Linked DNA regions of Homo sapiens. The protein of the gene in region 1 interacts with the protein of each later gene in a biochemical or structural test. Each region holds a gene or a part of one and is shown in the gene's direction. Other genes may lie near its edges.

Region 1 (5,284 bases):
AATCCTTCCAAAACAAATCAGCAATTCAAGTACTTCATGGCACAGAAGCTTCAGTCTTCATAGAGTGACGTACAGACTGCAAAGCTGAAGACACTATAAAATTCTGTAGAATTGCGCTGTTGCATACCTCAGTATTATGGCAAGCCTTACATGAGCAAAATCACAGTTCTTTCACTGTGGCTGATGTCATTTTCAGGTAGCCAAAATCATATATTTAGGGGGAAAAAAACTGAAGCATTCCCTTAGAGCCATGTATCAAAATTATGTTTTCTTTAGCTACGGTACAGTAAGAACTGGTCTTCTGACTAGCCTGAGCTCATGTCGCATTAAATAAACAGTAATTTTATTATTAAATATTTGAACAAAATTCTTGATCTGATAGACTGGTTATATTAAATGCAAATAATTAGAATAATATAAATGACTGGGGTAAGGGTGTTCAATCTGATTTTTTTTAATTTTAATTTCTGTGGGTCCCTAGTAGGTATATATGTTTGTGGGGTACATGAGAGGTTTTGATACAGGCATGCAAGGCATAATAATCACATCATGTAAAATGGGGTATCCATCCTCACAAGCCTTTATCCTTTTTGTTACAAACAATCCAATTATAGTCTTCTGGTTGTTTTTAAATGTACAATTAAATTATTATTGACTGTAGTCACCTGTTAAGCTATTAAATACTAGGTCTTATTCATTCTTTCTGTTTTTTTTAATACTCATTAACCGTCCAATCTGATTTATTGTACCTCTCCTAAGCTCAGACAAATCTTTACTATTACCTTTTTCAGGACAGGCCCATGACTGTATATTACGAAAAACAGATACCATTACTAATAGATATGTAATTCCTAAACCATTAAGCTTTTCATTATAAAGTTCTTACACCATCTTTCATTCTGCCCTTCACATTCATGCATGGAGTACTCTACTCCTGGCTTAAGACCAATTCTAGAAAATGTACTATCTGATTCACAAAGATGTATGTATGTGTAACTCTATTACTCTTATAATAACATGGCAAAATAATACAATGAAATAATCTATGAAGCGCTCTGATATTTATTCATTCAACAAATATTTTTGAGTACCTATATGTGTTGGACATTATCCTAGACATAGTGACAAACTAAAATATCAAATCAGACATGTTATACCTTTTCACAAAACCTTAAACTCCGTAAGGTACTCTAAATATACCAGTCTGCCTACCCATGATTGAATCTTTGCATGTTGAAATAGCCTTTGGTCAAAGACAATAAATTTTTTTATTGATGTAATGTAGATTTTTTTCCCAATGATCACAGAATCTTTGACAATCATTTTAACTACTTAAGACATGGATGATGGCTTTTTATACTTCCAATATAGGGACAACCTAACAGATGCTGAGAATGGCAACATTCAACTGCAAGCACAACGTGCATTTACCACCAGGCGGCAGATATCCGAGGAAACAGAAAGTGTTGACAACCGAGAGTCTTCCGAGGTATAAGTAGTTTCCTAGTTCTCCTTGAAAGACACATGCTATAGCAATAAAGTATGTGTGGCTCAAGCTTATTCTGTTCATTTTAGAACTGGGAAATTATAAGAGAAGATGAAGCCACCATGTATAGCAACCAGGCCTTCCCATCACCTCCACCGTCAAGTAACTTGGATGTTCCAACTCATCTTGCAGAAGAATTGAATGCCAGACTCACCATTTTTGGAAATTCAGCCGTGAGCCAGCCAGCATCGAGCTCAGTAAGATGCTCTTAGATTTTGTTACGGCTTCAGTAGTTTATATTATGCATATTATACTATTCAACAACTAACTTTTATGTAAAATTTTGTCTTAAATGCAATAATATGTAATAATACATTAGGGACCTTGGGACTTTACAACATGGTCATTTTTCAAATATCCTCATTAGTAGTATGGACCAGAGTCATGGCATCCAAATTTCCATTATGTCAGTGCCCTCCAGTCAAAAATCACTAGGGACACATTTGTCATTGAACAAGTTGGGTTTATTATTCATTTCAGCAAGGGAGAACACGCACCATTGGTGTTTTGGTAGCAGAATGTTAGAAAAGACTTCAGGGATTTGGGCTCCTGTTAGGTGATTTTGAAGAGGGTTTTAGGAAGCAGGACTTTGCTCTACATGAGATGCTGTTGGGAAGCAGGGATAATTCTATGATTTTGTATCTCAAATCTTATCTGTAGTGAGGCTAAAGCTATGATTAGCAAAGTAGAACAGTCACTCACATTTGCCAGGATGGGGAAATGTTTGGTATTTTGTGGCTTGGACAATGTTCATGTTTTGTCTATATTCAGCCACGATTACAGAGTGGTCTTGATTTTGTCTTGATCTTACCTATGAGTGCCAGGCCAGCTCTTGGATGTTAGGGACTGCTTTTCTCTCTCCCAGTTATGCTGAAGTTGGTTTTTTGTTTGCTTGTTTGTTTGTTTGTTTTGAGACATCTCACTCTGTCACCTAGACTGGAGTGCAGTGGTGCTATCTCGGCTTACTGCAAACTCCGTCTCCAGCTTCAGGCGATTCTCATGCCTCAGCCTCCTGAATAGCTGAGATTACAGGCGCACACCACCACGCCCAGCTAATTTTTGTATTTTTAGTAGAGATGGAGGAGTTTCACCCTGTTGGCCAGGCTAGTCTTGAACTCCTGGCCTCAAGTGATCCACCTGCCTCAGACTCCCAAAGTGCTGGGATTACAGGCATGAGCCACTGCTTCTGGCCTGAAGTTTTAACATTATATCACAGATGTCACCAACAGGTATATATGAATAAGAACTGATATACTTTGACTAAACAAGGAGATAGATGACATTTTCACTTCAGCCACCACTGTAAAAACTGTTGTCCATAGGGTTCAGAATAAAGTATCCCAGCATATGCTTCCACGATGAGAACTTCATAGCTAGCTGTCTAATATGTATCATCAAGGGAGATTGAGTAGAAGACAAAGATTATTCTCTGAGGATGCTATTTGTCATTTCCAGTTGAGGTTTCCCTGCCTTTCATTTAGTTAGTAAATATTTAATGAGAGCTGATCACATATATGCAGAGTACTATATGCTAGTTACTGAGGATACATCAGTCAATAAAATTAACAATATCTCCTGCCTTCATGGGACTTACATTCTAGTGCAGAGGAAAGCAAACTACAACCGGTGGGCCAAATCAGCAGCTGCCTGTTATGAATAATTACCATTGGAATACAGCCACATCATTTGTTTTGGTATTGCCCATCTCTGCTTTCACACGACATCATCTGAATAAAGTAGTTACAGCAGCAACCATATGGCCCACAGCCAGTATTTACTGTCTGGATCTTAACAGGAAATGTGTGCTAACCTCTGCTCTAGCATCTTCTTCAAGAAGCTTCACAGTAGATAGTTGTACGTGAATATGAATATCTGCCAGTAAATCCGCCTGCCTGCCTCCTGCCCTTCCTTTCTTCCATTTGTCTGTTCTGTCTTCCATTCATTTCATTTTTTCACAGGGGAGTGGGACAGGTCAGTCAAAGACCTAAACTACATTAGGCCAGGCGTGGTGGCTCACGCCTGTAATCCCAGCACTTTGGGAGGCTGGGATTATAGATGGGTTGAAGTCAGGAGTTCAAGACCAGCCTGGGCAACATGGCGAAACCTTGTCACTACTAAAAATACAAAAATTAGCTCGGTGTGGTGGTGCACACCTGTAATCCCAGCTACTTGGGAGGCTGAGATTGGAAGAATGGCTTGAACCCAAGAGGCAGAGGTTGCAGTGAGCCGAGATTGCACCATTGCACTTCAGCTTGGGTGACAGAGTGAAACTCCGTCTCAAGAAAAAAAAAAGAATAAACCATATTGATTTGCTGATGATAAATCACATACGATCCCATTCCCCTTCTTCCTGGTATTTTTTTTACTTAAAGTAATACATGGCAACCATATAGTGTAATACTATGCAGCCATTGAAGAGAACAAGGTGGGCTCGAGTGTATATGTTGGATGGAACAATCCCTAAGAGATGCTGGTAAATGAAAAACAGCAAGGTACAGAACAGTGTGTTTGTTACACCAGAATTTATGTAAATTATTTAAATGCAGAGCATAAATATGTGTATAATTTACTCGAGGACTAAACAGGAAACTAATAACTTTGCTTGCCTCTGAAGAGAGGCAAAGAATGAGCAGGATATATATTGTTTGTACCTTTTGTTTTTTTGAGATAGGGTCTCACTCTGTCGCCCAGGCTGGAGTGCAGTAGCATGATCATAGCCCACTGCAACCTCAAATTTCTGGGCTCAAGGGATTCTCCCACCTCAGCCTCTGGAGTAGCTGGTACTACAGGCACATGCCATTGTACCCCTGCTAATTTTTTTAAAAAATTTTTGTAAAGACTTGGTATAGTATTGTTTCCCAGGCTCCTTTTGAATTTTATAACATGTATGAGTGTTACCTATTTTAAAAAATATTTTTAAAGCACTGTATGGTTATGGTTACAAATTGAGATTGTATTTAGGTATATAAAATAAAATTTAAGACTGGGCATCTTGGCTCACACCTGTAATCCCAGCACTTTGAGAGGTCAAGGCAGGCAGATCACATGAGGTTAGGAGTTCGAGACCAGCCTGGCCAACATGGCGAAACCCCGTCTCTAATACAAAAATTAGCCGAGTGCAGTGGCGTGTGTCTGTAATCCCAGCTACTCGGTAGGCTGAGGCAAGAGAATTGCTTGAACCTGGGAGGTGGAGGTTGCAGTGAGACAAGATCGCACCACCATACTCCAGCCTGGGCATCAGAGCAAGACTCTGTCTCAAAAAAATAAATAAATAATAAATAAAAATTAAACCTTCTATCTTACCACTAATATATGCTCCCTCAGTTACTATTAGTGGTCAAAGACCTAAAGAATAAATGATACTGATTTGCTGGTGATAAATCACATGCATACATATATAGAAACTTTTTCTGTATATTCATAAACATGCATGCATACACATATATTTGTAGATGATTTTTTAACCTGAGATCATCTTAAACATACTTTTTGGTAACTTGCTTTTTTCACTTGCTGTCTCTTAGACATTGAACCATTTCAGTACAGATAGATGTACTCCTTTAAAAACCAACTAAAACAGTCATTAAACTCTGGCATATTCCATTGTACAAGTAACCCTTAAGGCATTTCACCAGTCTCCTATTGAAAGACTTTAGATTGTTTACAGTACTATTATAAACAGTACTACAGTGGATATTCTGATTCAATTTGTATGTGCATTGTAAATTTTGATGTCAT
Region 2 (3,791 bases), on another chromosome or scaffold:
AGACCCAGCCTTGGTCATTTTGGTGTCCCCAGTGCATAACTCCTTGCACAGAGGAGATAGTAATTGTGGGATTGAAGAAAACCTCAGGAGGCAGTGGTTGTTTTTAATCCACACTGAAGAGACTAGGGCAGTGGTGTTTTTTTAAGGGTAAGAGCATGTGGAAAGGAGCAAACAAATGCCTGAGCAGAATCCAGTGTAAGAAGAGAAGCAGGCTTCAACTTAACCGTGTTTCTATTTTTACAGAATTATTTTTCTCCTATTTATGTTAAAAACTATTTTCTGTTGGTTCAAACTTCCTTTTACCCAACTCTGACTCCTCTTCCAGCTAGTGAATGAGTCCATTTTTGCTCCCTAAAATATTCTATATTACTTTTTTCATTAAGCTGATAGTATTCCAGATTGAATTTTGAAAACTTCTAGTACAGCCTTTAGGATCTCATTTTTAGTATTTACACCTACTCCACTATATTAGAAGTTACTATAAGCTCACTGGGCATGCTCATGGGCAGTTTATTTTCAAGGCACCCTTTTAAATAACCCATACATATAATGTTAGTATTTGTTTATATATACATCAAGAAATTCTAGAAGGATACCCAAGAAACCAGTAATAAAGTAATTTATTAAAAGACTTTACCATTGTTGGGTAAATACTTTGGGCTCAGACTTATCTGTATTTTCTTTCTTTCTTTTTTTTTTTAAAAAAACTTTTAGGTTCAGGGCTACAAGTACAGGGTTGTTACATAGATAAACTTGTGTCACAAGGGTTTGTTGCACAGATTATTTCATCACCCAGGTATTGAGCCTAGTACCCATTAGTTATTTTTCCTGATCCTCTCCACCTTCCACCCTCCAAAAGGCCCCAGTGTGTGTTGTTCCCTGCTATGTGGCCATGTGTTCTCATCATTTAGCTCTCAAGCATTTTCTTTTTTTTTTTTTTTTTTTTTGAGACGGAGTCTCGCTCTTTCGCCCAGGCTGGAGTGCAGTGGCGCTATCTCGGCTCACTGCAAGCTCTGCCTCCTGGGTTCACGCCATTCTCCTGCCTCAGCCTCCCGAGTAGCTGGGACTACAGGCGCCCACCACCACGCCCGGCTAATTTTTTGTATTTTTAGTAGAGACGGGGTTTCACCATGTTAGCCAGGATGGTCTCCATCTCCTGACCTCGTGATCCGCCCGCCTCAGCCTCCCAAAGTGCTGGGATTACAGGCGAGCATTTTCTTACAAAGAAAAAACCTTAGTGTTTAGGGATATCTAGTATTTACTTATTTTATCTGTAAAATTCTCACCAGTTTGTATCATCCCCACTTAATATATAAATACCTCACAGTATTGTCCCTTTTTTACAGATGAGGGAATTGGAGTTCGTAATTGGTCCGAGGCCCTGAACCTAATAAATGCCAGTGAAATGGGATTTGACTGTAGATCTGGCTCCACAGCCCTCGCTGTCCCCTCTGTCTCACTGGCTTCTCACCAGCCTTGTCTGGATGACCATCGGTAGCAACCTATTGGAAGCATACAAAGCAGTTTATTTTAGAGGAACTCTCAAGTGTCTTAGGGTAGAAAGTAAAAAGTTGCTTCTTATGAGTTGCTAAAGGAAGGCTTCTGTGTCAGTAAGTATGGATGACTTTAAAAAACTTGTTTATGAAGCAATTTTTTAATTTAATTTTTTATAAGTTATATATTCATATAGTTCAGAAATTGAGGAAGTTATGTATATTACCTGGAAGAGTGAAAACTCTCCTTCCCATTCCAAACCCTCCCAGTAAACTTTATTATTGGTTCCTTGGGTATCCTAGTGTTTCTTGATGTATGTATAAACAAATGCTAACATATATATATGGTTTATTTAAAGGGTGTCTTGAAAATAAACTGTCCATGAGCATGCCCAGTAAGCGTATGGTAACTTTGAATATAGTGGAGTATGGCATATTTTTCTCTAGTAGTTTTCTCTCTTGGCACCGTCAGGACATCTTTTCATCAGAGCTTATAAAAATAGAGGATTTGTTAACCCTTGTGAAATTGCTCCTGGTTATAATTAGTAGAATGCCTTGTACTTTATTCCTCTTTAAGTAGTTATGTTCAGATGAGAAATTAATAGTATGAGTCTTTATTGCCATCCCTAACCCTTAGGGCTTTTGACTTTGAAGTGTCTGGTTTTTAAAAATTGCATTCTGAGCATCAGAATGAGAATCGCTATTTGTTTACTTTTAGATGCCTGTCTTAGATGTCAAGCTGAAAACAAACAAGAGGACTGTGTTGGTATGTTGTAATTTTGTTCTCTTGCTTTTTCAACTGAAGGTTTTCTCTCAGTAGGGATGTTTGAATTTGAAATTAAGATTGACTTTATCAATACACAAAAATAAACTGTAAAGCAGTGATCCATTGTTAATATAAAATATGTTGGTTCTCAAAAGAGTTTAATGGAATGAACCTGCAAGTCCTTTTATTGCCATAATTAAGAAGAATTGGTTATATATTCCAGACATGGTCATAATAAACATTTTGGTAATCAAAAATTAAATATTTTCTATTAAGAAAATTATAAAATCAGAAATTTGTCAAAACATTATTTGAATTTTGGCTATGTTATAGGTCACTTTTGGTTCTAATAAGGCATTTCACTTTTCAATACTCTTATAATACAGTATTTAACTTTAAAACCAGAGTAGAAAAATTCTAAGTCTCAAGTATATTTTTGGAATGTGGTTTGTGTATCAAATTTTCTTTAGAGTCTTAGACTACAAAAGTTGTCGTAGGCTAAATATTTTAGGCAGTTCAAAGATTTTTATGCCCTAGTTCTTGAGGTGATCAAGTCTAGATTGCTATATAAACATGTTTATAGATTTTCTTAGAATAAAAGATTGGCTTTGTATTTTGTGTTTGCATGGTGTACGTAGAACACAAATACATGGTGTACATAGAACTTCTTAATATTGATTCTTGCAGTTTTGATCCAGTTCTTCCTCCTGAAACGCTTAGAATGTTTCACCCTTGCTTCCTACCCCCTGTAGCCAATTTTCATAGGCATTTTTTTCTTTTTTTCTGCCTTATTTCTTTCATTTAATCTTTTTCTCTGCCTTATTTCTTTCATTTAATCTTTTTCTCTTGTCATATAGCTCAGTTGATCAAGCAAGGGACAGATGAATCCCAAATTCGAGATTGCATTCTAGATTGTGGATGATTTCCCTTGTTTTAAAGTTTTTCTTTCATGCTGCTTGTTTAAAAAGTATTAATTTGGGAATTGTGAGGGGCAGGCCACTTTCTTTGATCACAGAGAGACCTCTCTCTCCAGCCAGCCACTTTGAAAATTTCATCGTCACATGAGGAATTGCACTGCTTATGGGTGACTTAACACAATTCATCACTTCTAGAAAACAGCTCAGCTCAGATGCACAACTGAATGTTTAGAAGCATGTTATTTATAATAGCCTACTGCATACTAAAAACATTTACAACTCATTCTGTCTTGGTAAATAAAAATTGGAAGGACATTTTCCCATAAAATAAAGCCCAGAAGATCTCTAAGGTCAGTGCATGACTGAGAAGGTCAGATCTAAGGAAGGTTCAAGAACATTCATCTAACTTCAAGAAGACAGCATGTGGAGCTGTGTAGGAACTAGGGGTCATCACATCACCCATAGATTCTAGAACAGTGATGGAAAGGCTCTCAAACAGTGACTTATGTCTCTGTGTAACTTACACATTTAAGTTTCTGTTTCTTTATAGATAGAAAAACATTATTTTGGCCAATTAACTATCTTTTTTCAAGATTATTATTTGTAATATAAAAT
Region 3 (3,910 bases), on another chromosome or scaffold:
TTCTTTTCTGTTGTTGTGAGCGCCCAGATGAGATTACTTTGCCAAAGACTCTTTTCATTTCTCTTTCTGAAACTCTGTGAGATTGCTGTGTTCTCTAGGACTTAACTTCACAGCTAGTCTATTTTTCCTTTCAGAAATGACCATGGTTGACACAGAGATGCCATTCTGGCCCACCAACTTTGGGATCAGCTCCGTGGATCTCTCCGTAATGGAAGACCACTCCCACTCCTTTGATATCAAGCCCTTCACTACTGTTGACTTCTCCAGCATTTCTACTCCACATTACGAAGACATTCCATTCACAAGAACAGATCCAGTGGTTGCAGATTACAAGTATGACCTGAAACTTCAAGAGTACCAAAGTATGATGTTTATTTTCACTTTTCAGACTACTAGGACTAGAATTGGACTCATCTCTCAGTAACCCTGTAATAAATAATGCTCCAGAGACTAGAAATCTAATAGAGAAGGCATTCACCATTCATTTATTCACCCATTTATCCATGAAATATTAGGTATCTATGAAATGCCAGGAAGGGAGCTGGCACGAGGTCAATCTTGCCTTCCCCGCCCCCTCCTTCCTTCCTCTCTTCTTTCCTTTCTTGCTTACTTCCTTCTTAGGGACATTTTCTACCTTGATTACACTGTCAGTTGTATCTCAGGCTAAGAGTCCATCATCCAAACTTTGAATTATTTTGGCCCCTTATAAGTTAATAAGTAACAATTCCAAGTCACTTTGTATTATATAACTTATCTTCACTATATTACTGCTACTACAGTACATTTTTTCTAGTATGTCCTTTCAGGAGTTTATACTGAAACCTACTTTTAAGCACAAATTTGTTTTAACATTGTAGCCTATTGATAAATTTTCATGCCATTAACTAAATCAACATCAAAACATCAGACTCAAGAAAAACTAGAACTGCACTTTTTGAGATAAAATGTATTTCTGTGATGCTATTTCCTTGATTTTTATCATGTGTGGGCTGACATGCTGGTTTTCCAAAGCCACCACTATGTAATTGGCAATCATTACTTGACAAGTAAGAACTTCCTGTATTTCTAGTGGCTTTTAAAGATAAATAATATGCTTAGTTATATTTATCTATGCGGTTTTCAGTTAGAGCCTAATATGGAAATTTAGTAGCCCTGAGCCCAACTAGTAAAAGGTAGGGCTTACTTCCATAAGTTCCGCCACGCTCTGTCAAAGATTATTTCACAAACCACCTCCTTTGACTGAACACTAATGGTAACCTGGGCTCATATTTTTCATGCACCTCAAGCTAGGCATACCATGACCTTTTCACAGTGGTGTTCCTTCTGTGGTTCTTTTGCAAGTTGTTTCAAAGTACTTATAAAATGGAATATTTAAATAAAATGTATAATTTAATATTGTGATGAATACCAAAGACAGAACATTTCCTAGCAAAATAAGCTTCCTTGTCTCAAATCCTCTATGTTGTCTGTTACAGCTGTAGTATTGCAGGCTACTGGGGGTCATAGAACCACAGACTTAATTCTCATTCCCATTTTATATTTACAGGTGAGGCTTAGAGATGTTATAACTTGCCTGTGATTACAAACCTTTCTTTTTCTTGCCTTAACTCCAGTGTTTTTTCATGTTCCACTGTGCTTTTACACTGAAACAATACAAATACAGCATGAAGGTGTACTATGGTGGCTTGCCCTGTTGCCTTTTTAGGACTGTTTTCATGGGATAATTATCCTCTCACATGTCTCCATACACAGGTGCAATCAAAGTGGAGCCTGCATCTCCACCTTATTATTCTGAGAAGACTCAGCTCTACAATAAGCCTCATGAAGAGCCTTCCAACTCCCTCATGGCAATTGAATGTCGTGTCTGTGGAGATAAAGCTTCTGGATTTCACTATGGAGTTCATGCTTGTGAAGGATGCAAGGTAATTAAAAAAAAAGTCTTCAAAGAAATTGTTGAAACTTTATTATTTCATTTCAGCAGAACCCCTTTTTTAGGTGATACAATATATGAATTTTTTTTCTTCATGGAAGAGTATCTTGCTCTGTCACCCAGACCAGAGTGCAGTGGTGCTATCCTAGCACACTGCAGCCTTGAGCTTCTGGGCTCAAGTGATCCTCCCACCTCAGCCTCCCAAAGGATGATATAAGATTTGAAAGCCTAAGAAAGTGGATAAAAGTTGGGCTGCTTTGCCCCACATTTGTTTCTCCAAATTGATTCTTTGAGACACTGATCTAATTTAATCCTTGCATCTTGCAGATTTTTACAAAAAGGTGACTTCTCCAAGGTGTCATGGCAAGACAGTGATGACCTGGAACCAGGATGCAGATTTCCTGCATTCTCTAGTTGTTTATTTATTTATTTATTTATTTATTTTGCTATACCGTGTAATATTGTATAGACAGAAGATTTTACAGATTATTTATATATGCATATCTTTGGATCCCTAGAGCAATCCTATAAGATTGGACTTCTTTATGGCCACATTGCAGATGTAGAAATTACAGGTTAGTAAAACTTGCCAAGGTCATCCCTTAGTAAGTGGCAGACCGCAGTCTAGACCCTGACTCCTTAGGTGGTGTTGGCTCTCAAAGCAGTGCCTCATGTTTCCTTATTCCAGCATCAATGTGAGCCACATACACGGACAGGTAAGGAGGTATAACAGTGTGGGAAAGGAGATACTATTTATCCTCATCTCTTTCCTTTGTGAAAAGGGTATTTTGGAAAATTCAGACGTTTAGTAATTTATTGCTTAATTATTAAGAAAATATGTGAATCCACTCATATTTTGATATGCAGTCTTTTAAGATAATTTTAATATACACAATGCAAAAATAGTACTAATTTATTATATACGCATTGCACAGAATAAACTGTTCATAAATATTCACTTTATAAAATAAATACCTGCTTATTGGGCTTTTTATTCAACGTAAAGATACAGAACAACAGTTAGGAAAGTTTTAGGACATCTTGGTTCCTAAATGGATGGTGGGCCAAAAAAGGAAACTGATTTTTATTGAATTCTTACTACATGCCAAATACTGTATGAGGTAACGTTTTCATACATCAGTATTTAACCACATCCTACCCAGGTTTTCTCATCTATAAAATGATTGTGGCTGAGTGTGGTGGCTCACGCCTCTAATCCCAACACTTTGGGAGGCCAAGGCAGGAGGATCACTTGAGCCCAGGGGTTCAAGACCAGTCTGGGCAGCATAGTGAGACCCCATCCCTACAAAATTTTTAAAAAATTAACCAGGCATGGTGGCACATGCCTGTAGTCCTAGCTTCTTGGGAGGTTTAGGTAAGAGGATCCCTTGATCCCAGAAGTTCAAGGCTGCAGTGAGCTATGATCATACCACTGCACTCCAGCCTGGGTCACAAAAGCAAGACCCTAACTCCAAAAATAAATAAATAAATAAGTAAATAAATAAAATGACACTGAATTACATGATCTCTAAAGTCCCTTCAATTGAAACAGTTTTTACTCTAAAGGCAACCTAATACAGTGAAAAGGGACAAACCAGAGGTCAGCTCTGCCACTTTCCAAAGTCATTAGCCAGTCACATACACATTGTATCCTTCATCAGGCCCCCCATATGTAAAATGACTTGGTTAGATTGGCTACACAAGGTCTTATTCATCTCTAAGTTCTGTAATTTCAAAATGACACTTTGAAACACTCTGGCAAGAGATGCTTTCATTTAAAACACTAAAACCCGTTCGTTCTGTAATTTAAACCAAGTTAAAATATTTATGACCTTATATGAAATCATTGTATTAAGTCAGTTATCTAAGATCTTGATGAGTAGTAAGAACATGTCATTTTATTGACTTAGATTTTTTATTGAATGTTTTGTGGTTTTATTGAGTTTTATTTTAGATTTAATGAGTTAGAGTTTATTTTTA
Region 4 (3,910 bases), on another chromosome or scaffold:
AGTGCTGGGATTACAGGCATGCGCCAGCATGCCCGGCTAATTTTGTAGTTTTAGTAGAGACAGGGTTTCACCATGTTGGTCAGGCTGGTCTCGAACTCCCGACCTCAGGTGATCTGCCCTCCTTGGCCTCCCAAAGTGCTGAGATTACAAGCGTGAGCCACCATGCCCGGCCTTGGTGGGGATCTTTTTATGGTACTACCAAGAGAGCTTCTTTGTACTTTTATATTGTCTGTAGTCATTGTATGACTGTACCATAATTGATTTAACCTAGCGCCTCCCTTTGGTGGACATGTCGTTACTTTTGCAGCTTTGTATTTAGTGACTGTAATGGCTGTCTAGTATTCTGATGCAGGGGTTTGGGTACCCTGCTTTAATTTAGCCCGTCTTCCTGTTAGTGGCTGTGAAAGTTGTTTCCTGGAACAGATAAATGCGGCTTGTCTTTTTTCCATTTACTGGAGTAACTTGGAGATCTTTTTGTAGCCCCACATATGGATCTCCTGTGCAATTTAGCCACTCCTACTTCCCCATTGGAGCACATTTTCCGTGCTGGCATGAGCATTTTGCACATAGAATTTTGCATTCTTGTGGGAATGTAGTTGTATTCCTTCTTGAAAGTTAGATTCTAAGTCAAAGGTATATTTTTAAATTTTCATAGCTACCACCAAGACTACACTCCAAACAGGTTGCAGTAATTTAACTTGTCACTGTGTGACAGTGTTTGCCAAAGTCTGTTCTTTCAGAGTATGAGGTTCTTTTGGTATGTGGCAGTATGGAACTCTAGGCCTTGACTCTTGCTTCAACCAGAACATCTCTGCATCCAGTCTTAAGATTCCTTATATAGTTTTCTTTGTTCAGAAGATACCACAACTTTAAAAAGGCTCAGGGTGAGGAGTTGGTGGGGGTGTAAAAATCATTGGTCTCCTGGAACAAGAGGGGAGGACATTGGTGTCAAATATCAAGTCCTCAATTTGCAAAACAAAAAGGTAAAACAGCCTTCCAAGTGGAGAACAGAATAACCCATTTCAGCAAACCATAAAGAGTATGATACTTAGAGCCTAGGGACAACAGAAAGAGGTGTGAGACACCAGGCTATAAAAATGGCAGGCTCTGAATTATGCCAGGCTTCAGGAGTTTGGGTCTTTAGGCCTGGGACTGACACAGGAGTGTTTCAGCAGGAACAACAACACAACTCCACTTGCCTTTTGGACAGATGGCTCTGTTGGTGGTAGATGGGTTGGTTGAGGGCGCCGGTTTCTGTGCATTATGGGAAGTTCCTATAGTGAAGCTGGTGGCCATAAGGAAGGCTAACTAACACCAACAGTCATACCTGCTCTCCATGGTCTTTTTTTTTTTTTTTTTTTTGAGAAGGAGTCTTGCTGTTGCCCGGCTGGAGTGCTGTGACATGATCTCGGCTCACTGCAACCTCCAACTCCCTAGTTCAAGTGATTCTCCTGCCTCAGCCTCCTGAGTAGCTGGGATTACAGGCACTCGCCACCATGACCAGCTAATTTTTGTATGTTTAGTAGAGACGGAGTTTCACCATGTTGGCCAAGATGGTCTTGATCTCTTGACCTCATGATCTGCCCACCTCGGCCTCCCAAAATGCTGGGATTACAGGCGTGAACCACCACATCCAGCCGCTCTCCATGGTCTTGACGTGGGTGCATGCTTAGAGATGAACAGGCATGAGGGCCTCTGACACAGAGCTGTGCCCTGTGAGCACTGAGGAGGTTAATGAGGAAGCTCCTCAAGGGAGGGTGCTTCTGTCGCTTCTTGAAGGGCAATTCCCAAGGTGGTCACCTGAATAGAGAAAGAAATTATACTTTCATATCAGAAAGCGAACCGTGTATTTTGCTTCAGTCTGCTATCTAATCTCAAGTTTTGAGCCTTTTCTTCTCTGAGATGGGCATTTAGAAAAATATTTAACAAACGTTTTAAAAATATAAATTTTAAAAAGGCAAAAAAACACTAAGAAAAAAAAGAGCCTCTCGTATCCTGCAGCCAAAGCAATGTTTCCAAAACACAGTTTTGAGCAGGCTGCTCCTCTATTCAAAATAAGTCAGACACTCTGCTCTGCCACCAGCATCAAGTTCAAATTCCTGCGGTAAATTAGAGTCCCTCACATGCCGAGGTAGGCCGTGTCCCCTCCCACCACTTCAGTCCCAGCCCCTTATTTCTAGCACAGTGCCTGACATTTTGCAGTGATAGCTCACATTCCTTGTGTGCTCACTGTGTATTAAATGTACTAGCCCATTTAACAGTTAGAATAAACATAGGCTGTATAAAATATTATTACCCCGCCCCCCTTTTTTTGATAAAGAAACAAGATGAAATAACTTAACCAAGGCCACAAGTTAGTAAATGGTAGAACTGAAGCCATCCACCTTCTAAAATGGGATCATAGGCTAGGCGTAGTGGCTCACACCTGTAATCCCAGCACTTTGGGAGGCTGAGGCGGGTGGATCACCTGAGGTCAGGAGTTCGAGACCAGCCTGACCAACATGGAGAAACCCCGTCTACTAAAAATACAAAATTAGCCGGGCGTGGTGGCACATGCCTGTAATCCCAGCTAATTGAGGCAGGAGAATCGCTTGAACCCAGGAGGCGGAGGTTGTGGTGGGCCGAGATTGCGCCATTGCACTCCAGCCTGGGCAACAAGAGTGAAATTCCGTCTCAACAAAAAGAGGGGGGATCTTAATTACTAACTTTAGCAATTCAATAAGTAGTTGTTACAGAATAAATGAATGTGGTCCCTGCATGGCTCTTCAGCTGTTCCTGAATTACTTCCCCCTCATCTTTTATGCCTCAGCCAATCTGACCTTGTGTTCTGTCACTGCTAGGCTTATATACAAGCAACTGAGAAACCTCAGAAACTTGCTTCTAGGTAGGTCATCTTACTGAATTATGATAGAGTGTCCTTGTCTCATTCCCCACTGGTCGCTAAGCTCTGTCGGTCCCAGATTATGCAGACATGTGTATCAGAAAGAGTACGAACTCAGGGAACATGTTGAACAAGCTGAACTCAGTTCGAAAAGGCCCTGCGGTGGCTTTCCTTCATCTGTTATATTCATAGACTGCCCTTTCTGGGTTTCTTTTGTTTGTTTTTGTAGAGATGGGGTCTCTTTCTGTTACCCAGGCTGTACTTGAACTCCTGGCCTCAAGCATCCTCCTGCCTTGGCTGCTCAAAGTGATGGGATTATAGGCGTGAGCCACTGCACCTGTCTCCTCATCAGTTTTCAGGACAGGACTGGACCACCTTTTCCTTCGTCTTCATCTCAGTCTAGGCACAAGACTCAAATACTTGGAGCTTCTTAAAATTACCTGCTTTAGGACAGGTGCAGTGGCTCAAGCCTATAATTCCAACAGTTTGGCAGGCCAAGGTGGGAAGATCACTTGAGTCCAGGATTTCAAGACCAGCCTGGGCAACATAACAAGACCCTGTCTCTACAAAAAAATTTAAAAATTAGCCAGGTGTGGAACATGCCTGTAGTCCCAGCTACTCAGGAGGCTGAGGTGGGAGGATTGCTTGAACCTGGAAGTTTGAGGTTGCGGTGAGCCCTAGCTGTGCCACTGCACTCAGCCTGGGGGACAGGGTGAGACCCTGTCTCAAAAAAAAAAAAAACAAAAAAAAAAAACTCTTGCTTACTTGCTTCATATCCACCAACTTTGGGGTCTTAGGCAAGGAGGACTTTGGGCTGGACATTCTCTGAGATGTTCACTGATGCTGCCCAGCTTACCTGTATGTTGGGGAAGGATGCACTTCAATCTGGAAAGCTGTCCACATTCTACTCCCTGCATCTACTGTCCTCACATTTGACTCCCAGTGCCTATGGCAAGAGTTGGCAATCATATTCCTTTGGCTTTTTCTCCTAGGATTTTGAATGTGGAAATGACGTGGAACTGTCTTTTA

The links. The genes of interacting proteins can lie anywhere in the genome.
Region 2: the proteins of NEDD4 (region 1) and RNF7 form a complex in vitro, tested with the Homo sapiens proteins (2 studies listed by BioGRID, with this or other methods).
Region 3: of the proteins of NEDD4 (region 1) and PPARG, one has a biochemical effect on the other in vitro, tested with the Homo sapiens proteins (2 studies listed by BioGRID).
Region 4: the proteins of NEDD4 (region 1) and HNRNPUL1 form a complex in vitro, tested with the Homo sapiens proteins (2 studies listed by BioGRID, with this or other methods).

What each region holds. Positions count from the first base shown.
Region 1 is NC_000015.10:55,856,866-55,862,149, reverse strand, and holds part of NEDD4 (E3 ubiquitin-protein ligase NEDD4), read left to right. Parts: intron 1-1,371; coding exon 1,372-1,489; intron 1,490-1,575; coding exon 1,576-1,743; intron 1,744-5,284. UniProt on the Homo sapiens protein: E3 ubiquitin-protein ligase which accepts ubiquitin from an E2 ubiquitin-conjugating enzyme in the form of a thioester and then directly transfers the ubiquitin to targeted substrates. Specifically ubiquitinates 'Lys-63' in target proteins.
Region 2 is NC_000003.12:141,741,298-141,745,088, forward strand, and holds part of RNF7 (RING-box protein 2), read left to right. Parts: intron 1-1,346; exon of another isoform or gene 1,347-1,610; intron 1,611-2,211; coding exon 2,212-2,259; exon of another isoform or gene 2,260-2,260; intron 2,261-3,791. UniProt on the Homo sapiens protein: Catalytic component of multiple cullin-5-RING E3 ubiquitin-protein ligase complexes (ECS complexes), which mediate the ubiquitination and subsequent proteasomal degradation of target proteins.
Region 3 is NC_000003.12:12,379,570-12,383,479, forward strand, and holds part of PPARG (peroxisome proliferator-activated receptor gamma), read left to right. Parts: intron 1-134; coding exon of another isoform or gene 135-142; coding exon 143-362; intron 363-1,752; coding exon 1,753-1,922; intron 1,923-3,910. UniProt on the Homo sapiens protein: Nuclear receptor that binds peroxisome proliferators such as hypolipidemic drugs and fatty acids.
Region 4 is NC_000019.10:41,288,372-41,292,281, forward strand, and holds part of HNRNPUL1 (heterogeneous nuclear ribonucleoprotein U-like protein 1), read left to right. Parts: intron 1-3,873; coding exon 3,874-3,910.